3 linked regions of the Homo sapiens genome follow. The protein of the gene in region 1 interacts with the protein of each later gene in a pairwise test. Each region holds a gene or a part of one and is shown in the gene's direction. Other genes may lie near its edges.

What was found.
Region 2: the proteins of ELOVL6 (region 1) and LCP2 interact in binary tests that used the Homo sapiens proteins (3 or more experiments, as listed by UniProt).
Region 3: the proteins of ELOVL6 (region 1) and HMOX1 interact in binary tests that used the Homo sapiens proteins (3 or more experiments, as listed by UniProt).

What each region holds. Positions count from the first base shown.
Region 1 is NC_000004.12:110,195,215-110,203,457, reverse strand, and holds the start of ELOVL6 (very long chain fatty acid elongase 6), read left to right. Parts: upstream 1-4,842; 5' UTR 4,843-5,122; coding exon 5,123-5,211; intron 5,212-8,243. UniProt on the Homo sapiens protein: Catalyzes the first and rate-limiting reaction of the four reactions that constitute the long-chain fatty acids elongation cycle.
Region 2 is NC_000005.10:170,294,547-170,302,894, reverse strand, and holds the start of LCP2 (lymphocyte cytosolic protein 2), read left to right. Parts: upstream 1-5,117; 5' UTR 5,118-5,283; coding exon 5,284-5,361; intron 5,362-8,348. UniProt on the Homo sapiens protein: Adapter protein primarily involved in signaling pathways within T-cells, as well as other immune cells such as platelets, mast cells, and natural killer (NK) cells.
Region 3 is NC_000022.11:35,383,705-35,391,145, forward strand, and holds part of HMOX1 (heme oxygenase 1), read left to right. Parts: intron 1-2,980; coding exon 2,981-3,472; intron 3,473-6,159; coding exon 6,160-6,259; intron 6,260-7,441.

The sequences.
Region 1 (8,243 bases):
AAATCCCACACAGCAGGCGCCAGGCCATACAACTTATCCCACTATTTGTAGACCTAGGCATCACAGTGGCCGCAGGTACAGGGGTAGCAGGAATCGCAACCTCCTCTTATTACCATAAAACCTTATCAAAAGACCTTTCAGATGGTATAGACAACCTTGCAACTTCCATATCCCCTTACAAGCTCAGCTGGACTCCCTAGCGGCAGTCGCCTTACAAAATCAGAGAGGTCTCAACCTACTTACCACCGACAAAGGAGGATTCTGCATTTTCCTAGATGAAGAATGCTGCTTTTATTTTAACCAGTCAGGCTTAGTTCAGGATGCAGTAAAAAACAAACAAACAAACAAACAAAATCTCAAAGATCGAGCCCAAAAGATCAGGGAAAGCAGCTCCTCTACGTGGCCCTCTTGATCTCTCAGCACCTGGGCCGCCTGGCTACCCTCTCTCCTTGGACCTGCTGTAATCCTTTTTCTCCTCCTAATCTTAGGTCCTTGCCTAATACTCCTCTTCACCCAGTTTTTGCAGAATCGTATCCATGCCTTTGCCCATGGAACCATACAGGTCATGATGTTACTCCAGGAGTATCAACACTTTCAAAACCAAAGCCAACCTCCACTTTCCAGCCTTTCCCCTAGCCCCTGCCCACTCTCAGCCTGAAGCAGTCTGATGAAATCAATGCCCCTTCTCTATCATCTGTTAAAAGGCTGGAATGTTAGGGTCCACCCAACTGGACTGTTTCCCGCTCCCATAGACCTAAGCCCCAAAGCCCCACCTGTAACTGTCGGACCCGAGGCCAGCTGTTCCAGGATGCGGTCAAGAAGTCTACCTTACACAACAGAACTGGCAAGAAAAACAACTCCAGGAAGCGGTCAGACACCTGGCACAAAGGATCCCCTACTCCCTGGCCTTTTCTTTTTCCTTCACCCTGACCCAGTTATATGCCCTATAAAACCTTGCTATATAGCCTGTAAGCGGGGCTGCCTCCTCTGCTTTTGTCAAGAGGTAGCCCACCAGGACTGACAATGAATCACATTGACTTGAGTCTATTGACCTCATTCCTTTCTTGGCTGTCCTTCCAATTATCCCTTAAACTATTATTTTCAGTGTTTTATTATAAACAGTGCTGAATATATTTGTGGGGGTTTTCTTTGTTGGTGTTGTCATTTTTTGAGACAAGGTCTCACTCTGTCATTCGGGCTGGAGTGCAGTGGCGCAATCATGGCTCACTCCAGCCTTGACCTCCCCAGGCTCAGGTGATCTTCCCACTTCAGCCTGCTGAGTAGCTGGGAATATAGACACATGCCACCATGCTCAGCTAATGTTTTTGTATTTTTTTTTTTTGTAGACACAGGTTTTCACCATCTTGCCCAGGCTGGGCTTGAACTCCTGGGCTCCAGCAATCAGCCCACCTCGCCCTCCCAAAGTGCTGGGATTACAAGCATAATGCCAGCCCAATGCTGAATATCTTAGACATATATCCGGAATGTTTCGGTGAGTATATCCATAGCAGTGAATTTACTAGGAATTATCATGCTATTATTCGGTTTAACATTCTTTTATCCTCCTCCACTCCACTGCAGTTGAGAATAAAATCTAAACACCTTATCTTGATTTACCTGTGGCCAAGATCTGACCCCTGCCTGTCTCTTCAACCTGTTTCTTTCAATTACTCCTTACTGATGGCCTGAAGCCACACCAGCCTTTTGTCCTCAATCCCGCAAATTTATTCTTTTCCTAGGAGCCTTTGTACTTGCTCATTCTTCTTTGTAACACTTCTGCAAGAGGTGGCTGGCTCTTTGCCAGCGGGGTCTCAACTCAAAGTCCTTCTCCCTGAGGCCTTCCAGGTTTAAATGAGCACTCCCAGGCCTTCATGTCATGCTGTTAAATTGTAATCCTAGCATTTCATTCTCTAAGAAATTATTTTGTCTTCCCTTCTGGAATGTAAGCTCCAAGTGCGCAAGAGCCCTGTTTGTCTCATTTGTGAGTCCCAAGAGCTCAGATGAGTATGTACTCAAAATATATCTGGTAGGCCAAGTGCGATGGCTCACGCCTATAATCCTAGCACTTTGGGAGACTGAGGCAGGCAGATCACCTGATGTCAGGGGTTCAAGACCGTCCTGGCCAACATGGTGAAACCCTGTCTGTACTAAAAATACAAAAATTAGCTGGGCATGGTGGCACATTCCTGTAATCCCAGCTACTTGGAAGGCTGAGACAGGAGACTCACTTGATCCCAGGAGGCAAAGGTTGCAGTGAGCCGAGATCGCGCCACTGCACTCCAGCCTGGGCAACAGAGGGAGACATCATCTCAAAAAAAAAAATAATTCTGGTGAATTAATGGTGTGGATTTAAAATTGTGATATATGCTGGGTGCCTATAGTCCTAGCGTGGAAAACATAACAAGTCCCCATCTCTAAAAAATAAATGAAATTATCATATAGGCTGCCAAATTGCTTTCCATACAGAGTCACCAGTTTTCAAAGTCACTGACAGTGCTTGTTTGTTTTTGAGATAAGGTCTCACTCTGTCACCCAAGCCGGACTGCAGTGGTGTGATCATGGCTCACTGCAGCCTTGACCTCCCAGGCTCAAGCTATCCTCCCATCTCAGCCTCCAGAGTAACTGGGATTACAGGCATGTACCACCACACCTGGCTAATTTTTAATTTTTTGTAGAGATGGAGCCTCACTATGTTGCCCAGTCTGGTCTCTAGCAATTGTCTTGCCTCAGCCACCCAAAGTGGATTTTCTGTCTTGATTCCTTTCTCACTTCTTACCTTAATTTATTTGATGAATCATTCACTTTACAAATATTTATTGATTATTCACAGGCTCAGGCACCGTGCTAAAATGGTTCTTTCTTATCTGGCCACACCTATCTTCCAGCCCAATCTTGCCAAGAGTTTTGGCCTGGGCCTTACTTCAAAGTGACGTAGACTTGTACTGTAGAGGTCTCTAGAAAGACAACCCTTGGCTGGGCATGGTGGCTCATGCCTGTAATCCCAGAACTTTGGGAGGCTGAGACAGGTGGATCACAGCCAGCCTGGCCAACATGGTGAAACCCCATCTCTACTAAAAACACAAAAATTAGGCGGGCGTGGTGGTGCTTGCCTATAATCCCAGCTACTGGGGAGGCTGAGGCAAGAGAACCATTTGAACCTGGGAGGCGGAGGTTGCAGTGAGCCGAGTTTGCACCACTGCACTCCAGCCTGGGCAACAGGGCGAGACTCCTCCATCTCAAAAAAAAAAAGAAAAAGAAAAAAGAAAGACAACCCTTAATGGGGGAGATGAGGACAGTCCCTACACAGAATCTTTGGCAGTGTCAATGTATACATTAATTTGCTAATCAACTAGGCTAGCCCTTTAATCTATATATTGTACTGGATTTTAAAAATTATTTCTTTACTTTCTCATTAGACCTTCCTCTTTTTTTTTTTTGTTTGTTTGTTTGGAGACAGAGTCTCCCTCTGTCGCCCAGGCTGGAGTGCAGTGGCAGAATTTTGGCTCACTGCAACCTCTACCTCACGGGTTCAAGCGATTCTCCTGCCTCAGCCTCCTGAGTAGCTGAGGTTACAGGTGCCCGCCACCACGCCTGCCTGATTTTTATATTTTTAGTAGAGACGGAGTTTCACCATGTTGGCCAGGCTGTTTTGAACTCCTGACCTCAGGTGATCCGCCCACCTCGGCCTCCCAAAGTGCTGGGATTACTTCTGTGAGCCACCACCGCGGCCGGTCCCTTCCTCCTTTAAAAATTTTTCTCCCAGTTCCCACTTTTTGTGGGTTAGAGGCATCTAAATTGAATGAAAGTACCCTTTTTGGACTACTGGGGAGGTGGGGGGATGTTCTCAGAAGGGGAATTTTCTTTCTGGTCCTAATATCCACCTAATTTTTAAAAGCAGGGCTCCTTATTATTTTGTAAAGTTTACAATTACATCATTAGATACTTCCATGTCTCATATTTCATTTTTCCAAACTCTTGGGGGAAATGAGTGGAGGGATGGATGGAATAGAAAATAGTTTTTCCTCTTGGAGGCTGAGGGCCCAGTAGGGGTCAACAGTACATTCAGCCCTCTCCTCACATATTCTGTTCTACCTACAAGTACAGCAAGTAAAGCCAAATTTCTCATGCATGCAAATAAAGTTTTTGCATTTGGCCAGTCGGTCCAGTTCTCCTGTCAGCTTCCTTCCCCACTCTGCCTCTGTTCATTAATCCCCCCCTTCCCGGTACCTAAACCCTCCACCTAACCCAGCCCTTTCTTCCACTTCCGGCTACTAGCCTCTCTCGCCTATCCACTATCCTCACACTCAGCATCCCCTGTCTGTACGAGATTAAGGAGCTCTGCCGTCCGCAGGGCCTGGGTTAGCGTGAATCTAAGCCAGAGCTCCCGGGTGGGGGTGGGGGTAGGGGTGGGGGTGGTCCCAGAGGTAGGGCGAGGAGGTGGGAAGCGTATTCCCTTCACTGGTGATCTCAACGTAGATTTGCCCGGAGTTCTCTTGCAAGAGAGCTGGCAGGTTTTACTATTTCCCAATCGTTTACTCGCCAAGCTCTCGGGTCCACGCGCCGCGGGGATGCGCCCTGCAAGCTGAAACTTCATTCAAAGCAAGGCGGCCCACGAGGTTGGGCTTAGGGGATCTGGATGACCTCCAGGCCACTTCCTTTCTCTCTGCGCCCTTCCCCCACTCTTCCAACCACCTTCGCTGTAAACAAAACTGTCCCCCCCGGGCGGAGAGAGGTCGCGCTCTTTCGCACACTCCCTCGCCAAGGGTTAATTTCTCAAATCGCACGAGGGGGAGGAGATTTCCCTGTAGACGAGTAAAAAGGGTGATGGACAAACGTGCGGGCACTAAGACCGCAAGGCATTCATTTCCTCCTACGGTGGATGCGGACGCCGGGAGGAGGAGAGCCCCAGAGAGAGGAGCTGGGAGCGGAGGCGCAGGCAATGCTCAGCCCTGGATGTAGCTGAGAGGCTGGGAGAAGAGACGACCGCTGGAGACCGAGCGGCGTGGGGAAGACCTAGGGGGGTGGGTGGGGGAAGCAGACAGGAGAACACTCGAAATCAAGCGCTTTACAGATTATTTTATTTTGTATAGAGAACACGTAGCGACTCCGAAGATCAGCCCCAATGAACATGTCAGTGTTGACTTTACAAGAATATGAATTCGAAAAGCAGTTCAACGAGAATGAAGCCATCCAATGGATGCAGGAAAACTGGTACGTGATGCTTTCGCCTGATACTGTTCCCGGGAGCCCTGCGCGTCTTCCCGGAGTGCCTTAATGTCGGTATTCCCTGCCTGGGCGTGAATGGAGCGATGAATCGCGGGCAGCCAGCTGATCGCTGAGTTCTCGGGTCTCCCGGGTGCAGGAGACGCTGGGGGGGGGGGGGTACATGAAGCGCGAGGTCTGTGGGTGCCCCTGTGTGAACCGCGGCTACATAGGCATCTTTTATATAGATTATATAACACAGAACATATGTGTGTGCACAGGGTGATGTCTGCGCGACAGGGAAGGCGGGAGAGATGCCACAGTCCAGATCGCCTACCTGTGCTCCCCTCCCCTCCCCCGGTTTTCATCTAGATTTGGGTTTTCTCGCTTGGCCTCTCCCGCAACCGGAGTGTGAAAGGCAGTGGAGGGAGGACCTTGTCTCCTGTTGCCTTTAACCCTCTCCCGCCCGCCGCCCTTGGCCCTGGTCCTCGCTGTCTCTCCATCCCTCGTGTCCTTCCTTTCTCCTTGCAGCGCTCCTACTTCACCGTCCTCCTCTGTCTGCCGCTCCTCAGGCGGATGCCCCCTTTTTAGTACCCCTTTCCCCACGCGGTTCCCTTTCCGGTTTCATAGAGAGACCGGGTGGGAGGGAGGAGGGGACAATGAAAACAGTAATAAATGAATGAACCCGAGCGAGTGGAGCCACGCCATTATTAAGTTTCTGTTTTACGGAAACGCCTTTTGGACACACTTCTAATTCTGTGCGTAGCTGCTGATTGGAGTTCAGGCACACAGATTAAAAGCCCCTCCGTCTGCAGAGTCCTTAGGGGCTCTTCCCTAGGAAACTAATAATCAGGGAAAACACCTTTCTTGTTTACTGTAGTCCCCCCGCCAGACCTTTTGAAAATCCCTGTGTGGGAGGCGATCCAGTGTCACCTTGCAATATTTAACAGAGGAGGGTGTGCTCATCTCGCTTCTTGTAGACAGGGTTGTGGCAGAGGCATTCCTCTCCTCCCCTTAACTTCGGGTCTGGCGATCTGTAAAGTTCAAGCCCAACGCACCCCGGAGCTAGGCAAGGGGCCGGCAGCCCGGGGGATGGCTTGACCGGGGAGGGTCGGGCCGCAGGGTCTCCCGGGAGCCGGGGGATTCCGCCCGCCGCGTGCGCGAGCGCGCGTGCCCCGCGCCCTCCCGCCTGCCCTCTTCAACTGGAAACCAGAAACGCCGGCGCGCCTGTGGCCTGGGCGGGTTGGTGCAGTAGGAGCTGGTGCCACGGGGCCGCAGCTGCGAAAAGGGGGTTTCAACTTCCTGTCCTCCAGCCCCCTGGAGTCGCCGGCCAGTGTCGGGAGGCCCGGCCGCCGCTTCCTTCTCCTCCCGCCCGGCCGGAGCGCGCCCACTCCCAGCTTCCCGCGGGCTGGTCCGGGCCCCAATGGCCATTTGCGGCGGCTGCCGGGCGGAGCCCGCCTCCTGGGCCGCGCGCACCGGCGGGGCAGGCCTGCTTGGGGTGAGCTGCGGCGTGGCTGGTGGCGGCGGTGGGCTAGGGGCCCAAGGGCCGCGTCTGGCCCGAGCCGGAGCCTAAGAGGCGGGGACGCGGGCCGCTCGGAAGGACTGGAAGTGCAGCAGCCACACAGGCACAGGGCTGGTGCCCTCCCGGGCCGCTGAGGCCAGGGGGTGCAGGGGTGGGTCCGGAAGGAGGTTGGACACTAAGGGTCGAGACCGCAGATAGACCTCGGCGTTTCGGGGCAGCCGAGGCCCCTCGAGCCCCACCGCCCGGGGTCCTTCTCTGGATGCACTTCCTCCTCCCGCTTAGGGGGTGGTGCTGGAGGCGGGGAGGGGGCGGTGGCCGGAGCCGGCGGGCGCCGGAACCGCGCTGCTGGCTAGCCCCGGGCCCGGGTCTTCTCCGCACATGTTTGTCATATCCTCCAGCCGGCCTGTTCGGGCCCACAGTCCTCCCGCATTAGCCTGTGTGGTCAGTGTGGTCAGCATTTGCTTCTGTGCCGAATCTCTGACTTGCTGCGTCCTGGTTTAACCTGCTCTTCCGGAGTCCGCTTTCCCTCGCTTTGCTGGCTGACCCCATTCACTGTACGCCCGCCATTCCTAGCCCACTGCAGTCGATACTGCCTCTTATTTACTTGTTGCTTTTTCTCTGAGGCCACTTCCTAGGCCTGCTTCAGGTACCATTTCCCGCCTCTTCTCTCCATTCACTCAGTACTGAGCCAGACAGGTCTCAGCCCTCGTGGGACTGAAAATGACAAAAATGTGCCAACGTATCTACTCCTGTTAGGTTCTGACCACTGTTTCCTCCTAGTTCTTTATCTGTACCTTTCTTCTGGCAATATCCTTTACTGTTATATACATGGTTATTAACTTACAGACCATCAGCTCTTCAGGTTACGGTTCTTGTCATCCCACTCTTGATTCTGCAAAGCACCTAGCAGAGTGCTTTGCATAAGGCACATTCTTGAGAAAATGTCCAGTGAGTTGAAATGGTGATTGGTGCCCATTTTATTGCCAGCACTACTCGTTAATACCCGAAGGTTAACAGGCTAGAACTTGCATACCGTGGCAGAGTCACATCTTGGGATTTTTCCCTTCCTGGCTTCTGCTCTCTGTTGATGTTATGTTCTTAGATTGCTTATTGCAGTCAAAGAACCCTGCTGGCTGTTACCCCTCCCTTGCAACTCTTCCTGACCCTAATTGTCTTACTTTCATGTTTTTTTTTAAATGCCAGATTTTGTGCATTTCTCCCAATATCCCAGGGTGCCCAATTTTATCTCTCCTCCCTCCCCAAAAACTGTACAGCCAAAAAGACTTTAAACACTTTTTAAAATTTAATTTTATTAGCCGGGTGTGGTGGCTCCTGCCTGTAATCCCAGCACTTTGGGAGGCTGAGGTGGGTGGATTACCTGACGACAGGAGTTCGAGACCAGCCAGGCCAATATGGTGAAACCCCATCTCTACTAAAAATACAAAAAAATTAGCCGAGCGTGGTGGCGGGTGCCTGTAATCCCAGCTACTCGGGAGGTTGAGGCAGGAGAATTGCTTGA
Region 2 (8,348 bases), on another chromosome or scaffold:
GCCTTCTAGTGTGGCTGCTGGAGTGGGTGGGCCCCTCTGTCCAGCAGAGCAGTCAGGACCCCTTCCTGGTTCCGCTCGCTCCACTGGACTCTCTCATGTGGTGGAGCCCTTTGCCATCCACAAGGATCCCAGGCATGGAGGGTGCTCCCACTGCCTGCCTTAAGGATGGAGGGGAAAATTGCCCCCTCTCTCTGTGAGGATGACAGCTGCAGCCTTTGCTCCCATGCAGGCCCTCTAGGAAGTTCCAACAGCAAGGGACTTCAGCCTCTGGTGATAAATCTGAGATGTTAAAAAGTTGGTGGGAGTGAGGCTGGGTGGACACGGGCAAGGGCATCCTCAGATTGCCTGTGGTGTCTGTGTCACGTCAGCATCCTCTCTGGGCCACGTGCCACCACCTTATTCTCTCTCCCATGGTCAGGACCCTCTGTCCAAGTCAAATTCAAATAAGCACTTCCTCCCACCCACCTTCTAACTTCTTGTGTTCCTCTCCTAAGAAGGTCAACACATTCTCGTCTGTAAAGTCCCTGCTTTCCATTCTCCCCGTCCCTAAGCATCAACTCCCCAGACCCTTCCCCCAGCCCCACACACAGAAGTTGCAACTCCCAAGTCTCTTCTAAGGAATTGTGCATTTCTCTCGCCTCTAGAATTAGCGGTGAAGGAAGGCAGTTATCTGCCCACATGATTCTGCTGTGGGTCAGATGGAAAGGGAGGGAGCTGGGAGTCTGGACGTGATGGGTGGGGTGGGGAGGAGATTCAGGCGATGCCCTGGGCTGCAGTTTGCTGCTCCCACATCCACTCTCACAATCTGACACAGCCTCCCTGCAGGTACTGCTTTCTTGTCCACAGGCTCCACTGGTTGTGCAGTAAAGGTTCCTATCCCTTGGCCGGACGTGGTTGCTCACACCTGTAATCCTAGCACTTTGGGAGGTCGAGGCAGGCGGATTGCCTGAGCTCAGGAGTTTGAGACCAGCCTGGGCAACAAGGTGAAACTCCATCTCTACTAAAAATACAAAAAATTAGCTGGGCGTGGCGGCATGTGCCTGTAGTCCCAGCTACTCGGGAGGCTGAGGCAGGAGAATTGCTTGGACCTGGGAGGGGGAGGTTGCACTGAGTAGAGAGGGCACCACTGCACTCCAGCCTGGGTGACAGAGTGAGACTCCATCTCCAAAAACAAAAACAAAGAAAAATCATTCCTATTCCATGAGCCCTGTTTCTGTGTAGGAGCAGAATGTTGTCTTTTTTTTTCTTTTTTTTGAGAGGGAGTCTTGCTGTGTCACCCAGGCTGGAGTGCAGTGGTGCCATCTCGGCTCGCTGCAACCTCCGCCTCCCAGGTTCAAGCAATTCTGTCTCAGCCTTCCCAGTAGCTGGGACTATAGGCACTCATGCCACCACGCCTGGCTAATTTTTGTATTTCTCGTAAAGGCAAGGTTTCACCATATGGGTCAGACCAGTCTCGAACTCCTGACCTCAGATTATCCACTCACCTTGGCCTCCCAAAGTGTTGGGATTGACCCACAACGTGACTCACAGGCATGACCCACTGTGCCCAGCCCCTAGAATGTTGTTTTTATTCTGCTCAGAGGTTGTTTACCTTTTCCCAAATCTTGAGCTATGCATCACAAAGCCTAAGAAGGCCTCTGTAACCTCGTTCCTCGTTCGTACCTGCGGAGTTCTCCACCTGGTTGGGGGAGGGAGACAGACATGGGCGAGGGTATCCCCACCACTGCTTCAAATCACTATGCCCTACTGGATCCCCACCCTCTGCTCTGCTTCATGCTTGAAGCCAACAGACAGATGCTGTACACCCAGCTGCTGCCCCTGGCCTCCATGGTCATGGCAGCCACGCTGTCGGGGGCTGTACCCAGAGGCTGCTTTCATGGCCGCCCCATTTTGGAGGTGAGGGGCCTGCGGCTGAGCCTGCACAGGGTCACAGTGGTCCTTCTGGTCTCCTGAGTCTCTCTTGGGGGCTAACTAGCCCGGTCTCTGGAGCTTCAGGAACCCGCCAGCCAGAGACAGGAGATGTGAAACTCGTGAGTGTTGGGAAATCAGCAAGGCCTGGGGAAGAGGAAAGCCTCCAGGCCTGAAGCAACATGCTTCCCCTTGCACCAGCTGCCCTTTCTGAGGAATGGGCCTGTGGTTCTGTGGGGAGGGGGCACCAAGTGCCCGCCTCATGCAGAGTGCTGCATCCTTTACTGAGCTTGTTCAGATTGACAACCTCTCTTTCTCCTCACCAGAGGCCACAGAGAAGAAACTGCGCAGGCTCTGGAGACAGACTGGGTTTGAATCCCAAGTCTACCTTAGGCAGTTTCTGTAACATCTCAGAGCCTCAAGGTGGCAAATGGCCAAGGACAGGGGCTCTGGACTCAGATCAACTTTGGAAGAGTCCTGGATTCACTCCCTACTTGCTGGGTTCAGGGGGCAAGTAGTTCACCTCTTGGAGCCTCAATTTTCTCTTCTGTAGAGTAGGAGCAACAATAGTGCCAACAATTAAGACAGTCAGTAAGAAGTTCTTAGCTTGTGCTCTCTGGACCATAGGAAGAGCTCAAGGCATCGTGTCTCTTTATGTTTCTCAAAGTCACCATTATTGTCATCCAGGTTTCTTAGCTGCTTTGTCTGTCTTCTAAATGAGCTCCATGGATCCTCCATCTTGGCCACATTAATTGGATAATTCTTTCTAAAGGAGCCTAATATTTAGTGATACCTTCATTACAACTGCTTTTTTGTAGATTTTTCTTATCCTGAGTGGGGTGAACATCATTAAGAAAATTAGGCCAGTCTTGGTGGCTTACACCTATAATCCCAGCGCTTTGTAATGCCAAGATGGGAGGGTCGCTTGAGACCAAGAGTTCAAGAACAGCCTGGAAAACAAAGCAAGACTCCATCTCCACAAAAGAGTAAAAATAAAAAAATTAGCCGAGCATGGTGGTGCATGCCTGTACTCCCAGCCACTTGGGAGGCTGAGGTGAGAGGATCACTTGATCCCAGGAGTTCGAGGCTATAGTAAGCTATAATTGTGCCACTGCGTTCCAGGCTGGGCAATAGAGGGAGGCCCCATCTCTAAACATAAAACAAAAGCAAATAAAAAGGAGAAATTAAAATAAAATAAAGTAAAATTGCTTCTACTTTTAAGGATGATCTGGAATGTTCCTTTTCATAGGTGGCATGTGTTTTGAGAGATAGCGAGAGAGAGATTGATTGATCCACGTCAGGAATGCCCTCCCTTTTACTCCATCCTCCACGGCCCTGCTTAAATCCCAGTTAATTCCATGACATCTTCTGTGCTTACTCTACTTCAAAGTGATTTCTCTCTCTCTTTCTCTTCAAATGGCTTTTTATTGTTCACTGCTATGCTAGTGATTTGAAAGACCAGGTGACCTCTCACCCGTGATGGAGCTTTTGTACAGCAGAGCTGTGCTTTATACAGAATGATCAGCTACAAAGAGCTCTTAGGTGCGGCCCAGGCACAATGGCTCACGCCTGTAATCCCAACACTTTGGAAGGCCTAGGCGGGCAGATCACCTGAGGTTGGGAGTTCCAGGCCAGCCTGGCCAACAGGGATAAACCCCGTCTTTACTAAAAATACAAAATTAGCTGGGCGTGGTGGTGCATGCCTGTAATCCCAGCTACTCGGGAGGCTGAGGAAAGAGAATCGCTTGAACCTGGGAGGCAGCGGAGGTTGCAGTGAGCCGAGATGGCACCATTGCACTCCAGCCCGGGCAACAAGAGCGAAACTCCGTCTCAATAAAAAAAAAAAAAAAAAAAGAAAGAAAGAAAGAAAGAGAGAAAAGAAAAGAGTTCTTAGGTGTGAGGCCCTGCAAGGAGCAAATGGCCTGGGCTACCTTCACTGATGCCCTCAGCACCTTCTAAGGTGAGGCTAACACCAGCTCACATTGATGAGCTAGTGCTGGGCCTGGAGCAAAATGTGTATTTCATTTAAGCTGCCCACCAGCTTGTGAGGCAGGTGCATTACCGTGACGGCGGGGCTCCTCAGAGTGTGTATAAGAAGAAAACTGTGCATGGCCAAAGCTATGCTTGAAAACCCTCAGGAAGGCACCACCTCAAGGACCAACATAGCATCACTTAGTAAAGGCAACAGCCTTGGAACAGATGACTCGTGTGTGTGTGTGTGTGTGTGTGTGTGTGTGTGTGGCATTAGATGAAGTAGTAACTTGTGTTTAGAGGTTGCCTTATTGCACAAATATAGTTGCTTTTATACACTGGACTCACCCTCTGCCAATAAGTTGTTCAGTTATGAGAAATGAACAATGTCTGAAACTAAGAAAACAGCAAATTCTCACCTCCTATCTCCAGGGAATGTGCTCTTTGGCTAGAATATATGGCAGAATCAATAGTGAATAAAATATATTGTGGAAACAATAGTGAATGGAATATATGACACTACCAATAGCAATTGTTAAGTTTTTTTTCTTTTTAATTTTTCTTTTTAGGTTTGTCTAGTTGAATGCATCTAAGTTTTATGTGCATATGAAGAATCACTGTTTTCCTATTATACAGATTTGGAAACTGAGATTCCCAGCTTTTAACTCCTTGCCTAAGGTTGCATAGCACAGAAATAGTCATATCAGAAACTGAGCCCTGTCTGCACAGTGTAGCACCTTGTTCAGCCCTGGGTGCCTGACTCACTCACTCCTTGAGGACCCTCTCATGACAACTGTAAAGAGGCAGCTGAAAGAATCCCAGTCTTTGATGGTGGGAGGGGAAAGTGGTTGGAAAGCATTAAAAAAACATGCTCCAGCAGTTCACTGATGTGGGAAATTGTCTGTATTTCAGGTCAACCGTCAGGATAGATTTTGGTCTGCAAAGCCCCAGCTGAGCAAGAATGCAGTGTAGACATATGGGTGCCCAGAGTTTAAAGGAAAATTACTCAGACTCACATTGGAGTTTAAGACCCCTTCATTGCCTCTCCTACTGGGTTGGGGTGACTGGAGCCAGTGGGGAATTACCAACCCTGTGGCTCTCTCTGCATCTCAAGCCTCCAGAGCTGGGCTTCCTTGTTTACTTATTTAGAGCCCAGCAGAGGAAGTGGTAAAGGAAACTAGCTGAGTCGTTTTCTGAGAAGAGACCATATTTGTTCGCAGAGGAAGCCGTTGCTTTCTGGGATCTGGCTACGCCAGAAAAGACATCGGCTCCAACAGGGGTGTTCCACAGGGTAGCTGGGAGTTGGAAGAGCCAAGAACGCCTCCGAGCTCTGGATTTGAGCTTCTCTGCCCATGGGTGAAGCGCCCATGCTCAGCTTGTGAGCTTCTTCCCGGGAGAGCAGCCATGGCACTGAGGAATGTGCCCTTTCGCTCAGAGGTCCTGGGCTGGGACCCCGACAGCCTTGCTGACTATTTCAAGAAGGTAAGCCTTGCTCTTGTGTGAATGGTCATGATGCTAGTGCCCTTGGTGGGCTGAGCTGAGGCTTGACGATGGAATTGGGGCAGAATGTGGGAGGTGTATAAGATAGCAATGGAACCCTATGGCAACTTTACTGGTTGAGTGAGCGCCATATAGACCGCTGAGTTTTCCTGACCATGAGTTCCGGAGAGAAGGATGGGAGCAGAAGCCCTCAAATGAGTATGTGCCTATTATGTGCTAGGGTTTGAATTCGGTGTCTCACAGGCACTGTCCCATTTAGCGCTCCCTACTATGTTGTGAGGTCAGCATTGTTATCCCCTTGACTCAGCTGCAAAATCAGCTCAGGGAAGTGAAATGGTCCGAAGCCCTAGGGACTACATGTGATAGAGGCAAGACTCAAGCCACACCTATCTGGTTTTAAAGTCCATGCTCTGAGATGCAGAGAACTGTTGTAACTGCTAATGAGATCAACGCTACTTACTAGAAAGGGGAGACGTGGTGTCCTGGAGGCAGGAGAAAGAATAGGCAGGGTGGGAGGGCTGGATAGAGGACTATGATGAGCAGTGCCAGACACAGCATTTGGGCTTTCACTGCTCACGACCCTAAGGGGGGTCCTCAAGCTCCCGCCTGGGGCAGTCTCCTTGGAGCCTTATGAGAGTCTTGTGAAGCAGGACAGAAAACTGATGTGAGCCCCAATTTATAGCTATGAAAACTGAGGCCCCTAGAGGAAAAGAGGCTTGTGGCGGTGCTGGGACCAGAGCGTTGCTGTCTTATCTTCTGGACTTAGAGGAAAGGTTGAAGGATCCCTGTGCTTGGTCATTGGCAGAAGGGGACAACGCATCTGCTTGGGCAGATCTCAAGCCACATGACTTAGTTATAGTCCCTCTACCCTGACCATGTGGTAAGATGACTTGTGCGAGACGGTTAAGCTTCTAACACCCTCATCCCTGCAGGCTGGCATCGGATTCTGTTGATATTCCAGACTGTCATAAAGATGAGATTGTAAAGCTAAGATGGTAGAAGTCATCTAATTCAGCTTCGTGTTTTTCCTGGGGAAATTGAGATTCAAGAGGGTAGACGAGGTTCCCTAGGACGTATAGCCAAACCTGGGGTCTATGCATTTCCGAGGCATTTATAGTCACAGCTGTTCTCCCCCAACCTGAAGAAGAAAATGAGAACATGTTGAACTAGGTGTGGTATGGTAGGGGTACAGTTCACAGATCCTGTTTTTTGCCATATTTTGTGCTTTCATTTCTGTTATTTTCCTTCTGCAAGGTCATAATAAACTTAGATTTCAGCAAATATTGTTGCGCAACTGGTTTTTTGAAGGATGTTTCTAAATATCTTGCTCAAATATAGACCAAATAAGATAGGGCAACAAGGTAAAATTTGCCAAGAGGGAATAAAGTGGCATGTTACCTTGATAAGGGAAAAAGAAAGGAATTGAGAATTATGAAGAGAAAGACTTGGGACGGGCTGAGAGGCACAGATAGGCCTAACATTCAGGTGTGACCAGGAGAATTATACAATCCAATTGAGCAACAGAGAATTGATCCCTAAAACTCCCATCAGTACAGGGAGATGGACCACGGGTCAGGGATGGTACAGGAAGACCTCACTGCCTGAGCTGGGGGAAGGGAGAGTTTTCTTCCTGGAGATCTCAGACCCCAGGACAAATCTACAGCACCCAGGCAGGTTCCTTCTTCTGCCATAAATGGACTGAGGGAAGAAACTAGGAGACTGAGGCAAATCTGTGATCCTGGAAGTTCTAGTCCCTCCACAGACTTGGATAGAAACCCTTCAGATTCTGAGTACCTCAGCCCCCTGAAAGAAACTACCAAACGAATGGACCGCAGAGTCATTTGGGAATGGATCTTAGCTGTCAAACATGACATGTAAAGAATTGATCTGCAGATGCAAACTCTACCCAAGTAGTGGGGTCAGGCCTCCCTTGGAGACAGCTCTCGACTCAGCTCTGAGGTCGGACACACTTTACCCTGGCTCTGCCACCTGCTAGCTTGGCGACTTTCCTGTAGTTGCTTTGCCTCTCTGTGCCTCAACTTCCTCATCAGTGAAATAGAGATATGAACAGTAACTAACCCAATGGGTTGGTTGTGAGGATTAAAGCAAATGATGTGTGCAAGGCACTCAGCAGACAAATGGATCCTAATGCGTGTTCCTTCTGCCCTTTTACCTTCTCTATTAACTGGCTCCTAGCTGGGGACACCCATGCAGACTGGTGGGACTTTGCGTCTTCTTGTCTCTGACATGGGTACCTCGTCCTGTGTCTGGAATATAAGCTCCTGAGGACAGAGACCATGTTACATATTTGTTCAATCTCTCCAATTCCTTTTGACTTGCAGGAGAACATCCTTGGGTCGTGCAGTGGAGAGGCACTGGCTCAGAGCTGTGTGTCCTAATCCCAGGTGGGGTCCCAGCTGGTATCCCAGCTCACTGTGTGACCTTAGACCAGCCTCTTTCCCTCTAGAGGCCTCAGTCTTCCTTACTACAAATCCAGGTAACTTTTCTGGACCAGTGCCTACCAATGCTGGATGCCATAGGAATCGTCTAGGGTGCTCCTTAAAAATACAGATTTGAGGTCCACAAGCCTAGATCTTGCTGGAGCAGAATCAAATGCCTGGGTCCCAGTCTGCAGGACTCTCTGCTGATCTAGACACAAAGTTAGCACTCTTCAAAATCATCTGGTTTATCTCATAATGATAACAGTGAGAATGATGAATTAAAGGCAGTTGACTCTTCCAAGAACCACTTACCCCCCACTGCCTGTAGATAAAGGGGATACCAGGGCTCCATAGATGGGATGTGCTTTCAATATCAACTTCTAAGTCAGCTTTCTGAGTGTGATAATCATCCCACCCTTCCAAGCTAAGATTTCATAACAATTGTATTTATTCTTTGGATTTGCTAGCTATAAGATAAAAATATGGCTTAAAATGTGCTCCAAAAGAAGGCTGCCACAAACCATGAGG
Region 3 (7,441 bases), on another chromosome or scaffold:
TAGGTTGGAGTCTTAACAGAACCCTTTTCTAACAGTGAGACTGAGGGTGCCTCATCTAATCTCCCTAAGCCACGTTTTCCCCATCTGTAAAAGAGTATTTCAACAGCAGGGTTTTCTTAAGCACCCACTATATGCCAGGTACTGATTTTGCTGTTTCCCAGCACTGTTGTGAAATTCATGCAAATAGAAGGAAAGCACTTGATGAAGAACCGGGAAGATACTGGGTGTTAAAACATCAGCGTGGGGAAGAGCTTGTTCAGGTTGAACAGAGGGTGTGGGGGTGGGGAGTAGGGAGCTATATCCCACCACCTTCATCCCAGTCCCTTTTGCAATCTGCACCCTCTGCCACCCCCTACTTCCAACATGAGACATGCTTTATTTATTTTATTTTATCTGAGACAGAGTCTCACTCTGTTGTCCGGGCTGGAGTGCAATGGCAAGATCTCGGTGCCCTGAAACCTCCGCATCCTAAGTTCAAGCGATTCTCCTGCCTCAGCCTCCCAAGTAGCTGGGACTACAGGTGCCCACCACCACACCTGGCCAATTTTTGTATTTTTTTAGTAGAGACAGGGTTTTACCATGTTGGCCAGGCTGGTCTCGAACTCCTGACCTCAGATGATCCACCCGTCTTGGTCTCCCAAAGTGCTGGGATTAGAGGTGTGAGCCACCACCCGGCCGAGACATGCTTTAATGAGGAGAGATTTAATCTGTGGTTCCAGGCTGGGTGGGGTCCTTGGGCCTGTAATGGGTCTTCCTCATCCTCCTCCCCTCTCCCTTAAAAAGATGAGGTACACCCAGTTGCTGCAGTGTGACTGGAGACAGTGGGTGCAGGGAGGTGAATGCTGGAATATCCCATCCCCAGCCAGCTTAGACTTTGGATTTTGCCTCTAAGTCACAGGGTTCTAAGGAGGCGCCAAGATCCATGAGAGAATCCAGTGCTCACTTACATTAAGCTGGTGGACGTGGCACTTATCACAGCCCTTCTCATGTGAGCGCTAAGTGCCAGGCTGCCCTCTGTGCTGGCCCAGATCCTCTCACTTAATCCTCACACCAGCCCCATCTAGTATGTGGCAGGTGAGGGAACTGACTAGCACAGTTGGCTAGCACAGTCACACGGACCTCAGATCATCTGCTCTAGGATAGGATAGGAAGCTGGGACCAGAGAAAGCAAGTGGCTCACCCATGGTCACACAGTTAAGGACTGGCAGAGTTGGGTAAGAACCAGGTCCGTCACACTCAAAAACCCAGGCTCTTTTGTACCAGACTGCCTGGCTTTCTGTCCCCTCAAGGAATAGAGCTGCTTTGAATGTTTGTGGCTCAGAAATAACTCAGAAACTCCAACCTAAATGTCTTAACTTTGTTCTCCTTCAAATTTAAACGGGCGTATTAATGTGTAACGGGAGTTAGTGCCCCAAGCCAAGGTACACTCAAGACCTGTTGCCTCAGCCCAGCATGCAGAGGTGGTGGGGTTCAGAATAGGCCTCCAGGAAGGAGAATTGTGCCCTGTAGTTGGTTACGCAGAGGTCAAAAGCCAGAAGCACATGGCCAATCTCCTTTAAGCACTTTCATTTCAGCTGTTCCCCTCTCCTGAGCCATGGTGGGTCCCTGGCAATGCCCGGTCTTCAATCTAGTTTCATTTCTTACTAGCTGTGCAACCTCCATGTCTCATACCCTCTCTGAGCCTTAGTTTCCTTTTCTGTAAAATGGGAATAGCAATTCCTTTGTTGGATTTTTTTTTTTTTTTTTTCTGAGACAGGGTCTTGCTCACTCTGTTCCCCAAGCTGGAGTACAGTGATATGATCACAGCTCACTGCAACCTTGAAATCCTGGGCTCAAGTGATACCCCTGCCTCCGCCTCTGGAGTAGCTGGGACTATAGGCATGCACCCCCACAGCCATACCTGGCTTTTTTTTTTTTTTTTTTTTTTCTGAGTCAAAGTCTTGCTCTGTCGCCCAGGCTGGAGCGCAATGGCGTGATCTCGGCTCACTGCAACCACTGCCTCCTGGGTTCAAGCAATTCTCCTGACTCAGCCTCCCGAGTAGCTGGGATTATAGGTGCCTGCCACCATGCCTGGCCAATTTTTGTGTTTTTAGTAGAGATAGGGTTTCACCATATTGCCCAGGCTGGTCTCTTGGCCAGGCTGGTCTCGAACTCCTGATCTCGTGATCCGCCTGCCTCAGCCTCCCAAAGTGCTGGGATTACAGGCGTGAGCCACCGCGTCCAGCTGGCTAGTTTATTTATTTATTTATTTATTTTTATTTATTTTTTTGAGACAGAATTTCGCTGTGTTGCCCAGGCTGGAGTGCAGTGGCGAGATCTCAGCTCACTGCAAGCTCCACCTCCCGGGTTCACGCCATTCTCCTGCCTCAGCCTCCTGAGTAGCTGGAACTACAGGCGCCCGCCACCACGCCCGGCTAATTTTTTTGTATTTTTAATAGAGACGGGGTTTCACCTTGTTAGCCAGGATGGTCTTGATGTCCTGACCTTGTGATCCTCCCGCCTCGGCCTCCCAAAGTGCTGGGATTACAGGCGTGAGCCACCGCACCTGGCCCCAGCCAGCTAGTTTTTTAAAATAATTTTTTGTAGAGGTGGGTTTTGGGCTATGTTGCCCAGGCTGGTCTCAGACTCCTGGCTTTAAGCAATCCTCCAGCCTTAGCCTCCCAAAGTGCAGGGATTACAGGGGTTTGAGCCACCACACTGGGCCAGTTTGTTAGATCTTTATATAAGGATTCAATTAGGCTGCTTGTTTTGCCCAGTGGGGTAAAAGGTTTTTAGGCTGAGAAAGTGCATGATCGTCTTTTCCTCTTGTAAAAACCCCTCTGGCTGCTGTGTGAAGAGGATTGTAGCGAGGGGTGGCAGAAGGAGTCAGAGCCCAGCTGCGAAGTGAGGAGGGCCTTTCCAAAGGCAGTAGTGGACGGGACGGACAGAGGTGGGGGTCTTCTATGTGGCTGGCGGCCTGACCTGCTCACTCTGCTTTCAGCTGGTGATGGCCTCCCTGTACCACATCTATGTGGCCCTGGAGGAGGAGATTGAGCGCAACAAGGAGAGCCCAGTCTTCGCCCCTGTCTACTTCCCAGAAGAGCTGCACCGCAAGGCTGCCCTGGAGCAGGACCTGGCCTTCTGGTACGGGCCCCGCTGGCAGGAGGTCATCCCCTACACACCAGCCATGCAGCGCTATGTGAAGCGGCTCCACGAGGTGGGGCGCACAGAGCCCGAGCTGCTGGTGGCCCACGCCTACACCCGCTACCTGGGTGACCTGTCTGGGGGCCAGGTGCTCAAAAAGATTGCCCAGAAAGCCCTGGACCTGCCCAGCTCTGGCGAGGGCCTGGCCTTCTTCACCTTCCCCAACATTGCCAGTGCCACCAAGTTCAAGCAGCTCTACCGCTCCCGCATGAACTCCCTGGAGATGACTCCCGCAGTCAGGCAGAGGGTGATAGAAGAGGCCAAGACTGCGTTCCTGCTCAACATCCAGGTGAGGGTCGGGCAGCCTGGGGCAGCCTCTGCCTCCCCCCGTTGTTCCTCCAAGGGACCCTTCTCATTGTAGGGGAGGGTGCTATAGGTCATGGTTAACACAGGGAACCAGAGTTCCAGCACTGCCACTTACTAGCTGGGTGATCTTGGGCAAATGCCTTCATCTCTCTGTACCTCAGTTTCCCTATCTGTAAAATAGGGATAATAATGGTACCTATATCTTAGACTTATAAGGCTTGAGTGAATTTACAGCAGTAAAGTCCCCACAGCAGTGTCTGGCACAGAGGAAGCCCTCAAACATTCACTACTGTCATAATGGGACATGAGAATCAGTTGTAGCTCTCTGTGACAACAGTCTGTGGCAATGTATAAGTTGTGTGTGCACTAGTGTATAGCCAGGTTGGCACTCCCAGGGTTACAGGTGGCCTCTGCCTTCCAGGGACTCTCAGCCTAGCCAGAGAGGTTTACCTCTTTCTACAAGTGTCTCAAATCCAGGGGGAAGGTGGGGTTTGCGCAAAGCCTGGAAGGATGAATTCTTGGGCAGAGGTGGAGGGGTGAGGGGCTCCTTCTAACCAGATGTCATAGAGCCTTCTCTCTCTGCCACCCCCTGGAGGTGCCATGGGGCCTGGGGCTCGGGGTCATGCCCTCCTGGCTCCCTACTCCCAGCCGTGGATTGCAGAAGATTCTGGTCCTGGCCCCTGTTACGGAACAAGGCCTTTCCCTTCCACCCTCCCCCTTCAGAAAATCCAGTCCGTCTTGGAGGAAGAAAATCTGTGTCTTTCAGAGAAGTGTAGGCAAAAGAAAAGGGCCAGGTGCAGTGGCTCGCGCCTGTAATCCCAGCACTTTGGGAAGCCGAGGTGGGCGGATTGCTTGAGCTCAGGAGTTTCAGACCAGCCTGAGCAACATGGTGAGACCCTGTCTCTATCAAAAATAAAAAATAAAAAAAAATTTAAAGGAAAAAAATGTTTTTAAAAGAAAAGGGATTTGGAATCAGAACTGGCTCTCAGGCTCGTGCCTATAATACCAACACTTTGGGAGGCCAAAGCAGGAAAATGGCTTGAGCCCAGGAGTTTGAGACCAGCCCTGGCAACACAGTGAGACCCCATCTCTACAAAAACATGAAAAAATTAGCCAGACATAGTAGCGTGCACCTGTAGTCCCAGCTACTTGGGAGGCTGAGGTGGGAGGATTGCTTGAGCCCAGGAGGTCAAGGCTGCAGTAAGCCATGATTATGCTACTGCACTCCAGCCTGGGCAACGGCAACAGAGCAAGACTCTGTCTCAAAAACCAAAAAAACAAAAACAAAAACAAAAAAAAACGGCTCTTGGCTGGCCGGGCGTGGTGGGTCACGCCTGTAATTCCAGCACTTTGGGAGGCCGAGGCGGGTGGATCACGAAGTCAGGAGATCGAGACCATCCTGACTAACACGGTGAAACCCCATCTCTACTAAAAAAAAGAAAATACAAAAAAAATTAGCTGGGCATGGTGGTGGGCACCTGTAGTCCCAGCTACTCAGGAGGCTGAGGCAGGAGAATGGCGTGAACCCGGGAGGCGGAGCTTGCAGTGAGCAGAGATCGCGCCACTGCACTCCAGCCTGGGAGACAGAGTGAGACTCCGTATTAAAAACAAAAAACAAACAAAAAAAAACGGCTCTTAGTGCCTGACCTCTGGATCAGTCCTTGGGCAAAGCACTTAACCTGTAGGAGCTACAGTTTCCTCATCTGCAAGGCTAACAAATACCATTCAGCACACCTCACCAAGGCTGAATTTCACAAATCTAAACTCAAGAGAAGAAAGCAGCGGCAGAAGAGTGCATGTACTAGGATACCACTTAATATTATTTCAAAACAAGCAACGCAGCCTTTTGCATGGAGACACAGGCTAAGGACATGGGCGGCCACAGTGAACTCTAAATCCAGGATCATTGTTATCGGTTGGGAGGGCAAGAGCAGGCAGGGGAGCCAATTGGGCTTGGAACATCTTATCTCTTAAGGTGGATGAAAGGGATATGAATTTTCTTTCTTTCTTTCTTTCTTTCTCTCTTTCTTTCTTTCTTTCTTTCTTTTTCTTTCTTTTCTCTCTCTCTCTCTCTCTCTCTCCTCTCTCTCTCTCTCTTCTTTCTTCTTTCTTTCTTTCTTTCTTTCTTCTTTCTTTCTTTCTTTCTTCTCCTTCCTTCCTTCCTTCCTTCCTTCCTTCCTTCCTTCCTTCCTTCCTTCCTTCCTTTCTTTCTTTCTTTCTTTCTTTCTTTCTTTCTATCTTTCTTTCTTTCTTTCTTTTCTTTCTTTCTTGCAGAGTCTCGCCCTGTCACCCGGGCTGGAGTGCAATGGGGCGATCTTGGCTCACTGCAACCTCAGCTTCCCAGGTTCAAGCATTTCTCCTGCCTCAGCCTCCCGAGTAGCTGGGATTACAGGCATGCACCACCACGCCCGGCTAATTTTTTGTATCTTTACTAGAGATGGGGTTTCACTATGTTGGCTAGGCTGGTCTCAAACTTCTGACCCGTGATGTGCCCATCTTGGCCTCCCAAAGTGCTGGGATTACAGGGGCGCACCACCGTGTCCGGCCAATATTTTTCTTACCATCTTGTTATTTCCAAAGTATTTCCTAACACAACTTAAGGTCCTACCTTCAGCTGGGACCTGGTAGCATCTCTCACTGAGATAGGCATGTGTGTCTTTTGTCTTTTAGCTCTTTGAGGAGTTGCAGGAGCTGCTGACCCATGACACCAAGGACCAGAGCCCCTCACGGGCACCAGGGCTTCGCCAGCGGGCCAGCAACAAAGTGCAAGGTGAGAGCATCCAGGAAGGGGCACTTCCTCTGGGCTACACATGGAGGGACTTGGCTGTCTGACTGTAGTATCTCTATTCCTCTGTTTTCTGAATGTTTGGTGGTGGTGGGTGTTGTTTCCTGCTGCCCCACCCCACTGCCCCTGTAAGGACAGGTTCTCGCTATATTGCCCAGGCCAGTCTTGAACACCTGACTTCAAGCAATCCTCTTGCCTCTGCCTCCCCACATGCTGCAGTTACAGGCGCGAGCCACCATGCCAGCCTGAATGTTTGTTGTTGTTGTTGTTTGAGATGGAGTCTCACCCAGGCTGGAGTGCAGTGGCGCGATCTCAGCTCACTGCAACCTCTGCCTCCCGGGTTCAAGCAATTATCCTGCCTCAGCCCCCCGAGTAGCTGGGATTACAGGCGCCCACCACCATGCCTGGCTAATTTTTTTTTTGTATGTTTAGTAGAGATGGGGTTTCACCATGTTGGCCAGGCTGGTCTCGAACTCCTGACCTCAGGTGATCCGCCCACCTTGGCCTCCCAAAGTGCTGAGATTACAGGCGTGAGTCACTGTGCCCGGCCACCTGCGTGTTTTTGTATGAGAAGTGGAGTGCAGGCAAAAGGACCTGGGGTCAACCTTCAGCGTGTGGCTCTGGGCAAGCCATGAGACTTCTCCCTACCTCAGTTTCCCCACCCGTAAAATCCAGTGAGGTTCAGCTACTTCTAGCTTATTGGCTCAGAAGTGCACAAGAACCCCTCAGAAATCATGGGAAACTCCTGCCTCCTTAATTTAGACTCCTTTTTAGGCCTTTGGTCCCCTGATGTGGGCCAGGGAGTTGGGGACCTGTATCCAGCTATGAACCCACCACAGGAAGATGTCCCTTCTGAGTCTTGTTGTGTGTGAGCCCCTCCCTCATGTGCCTAAGAACGATCAAGGCTGGCTGTACTGAAACATCTTGGAAACTTCCAAAAAGACCAAAGTGCTCCACAAAATGTACCCTCACTAAGCCTAAAACACTGAGGGAGGGAGTGTGGCTTTGGGATGGGTAGCAATAAAGAGGTAAGGCTTAGCTACCTCCTGGCAGGTTATATTAGGCCTCCCCTCCTGTGCCACCCTAACCTACCTGGCTTGTGGCTTTCTCACTTGTGCCAGACCACACGGACCCCTCTGCTAGGGGTTTGTAACCCCGGAGGGCTTG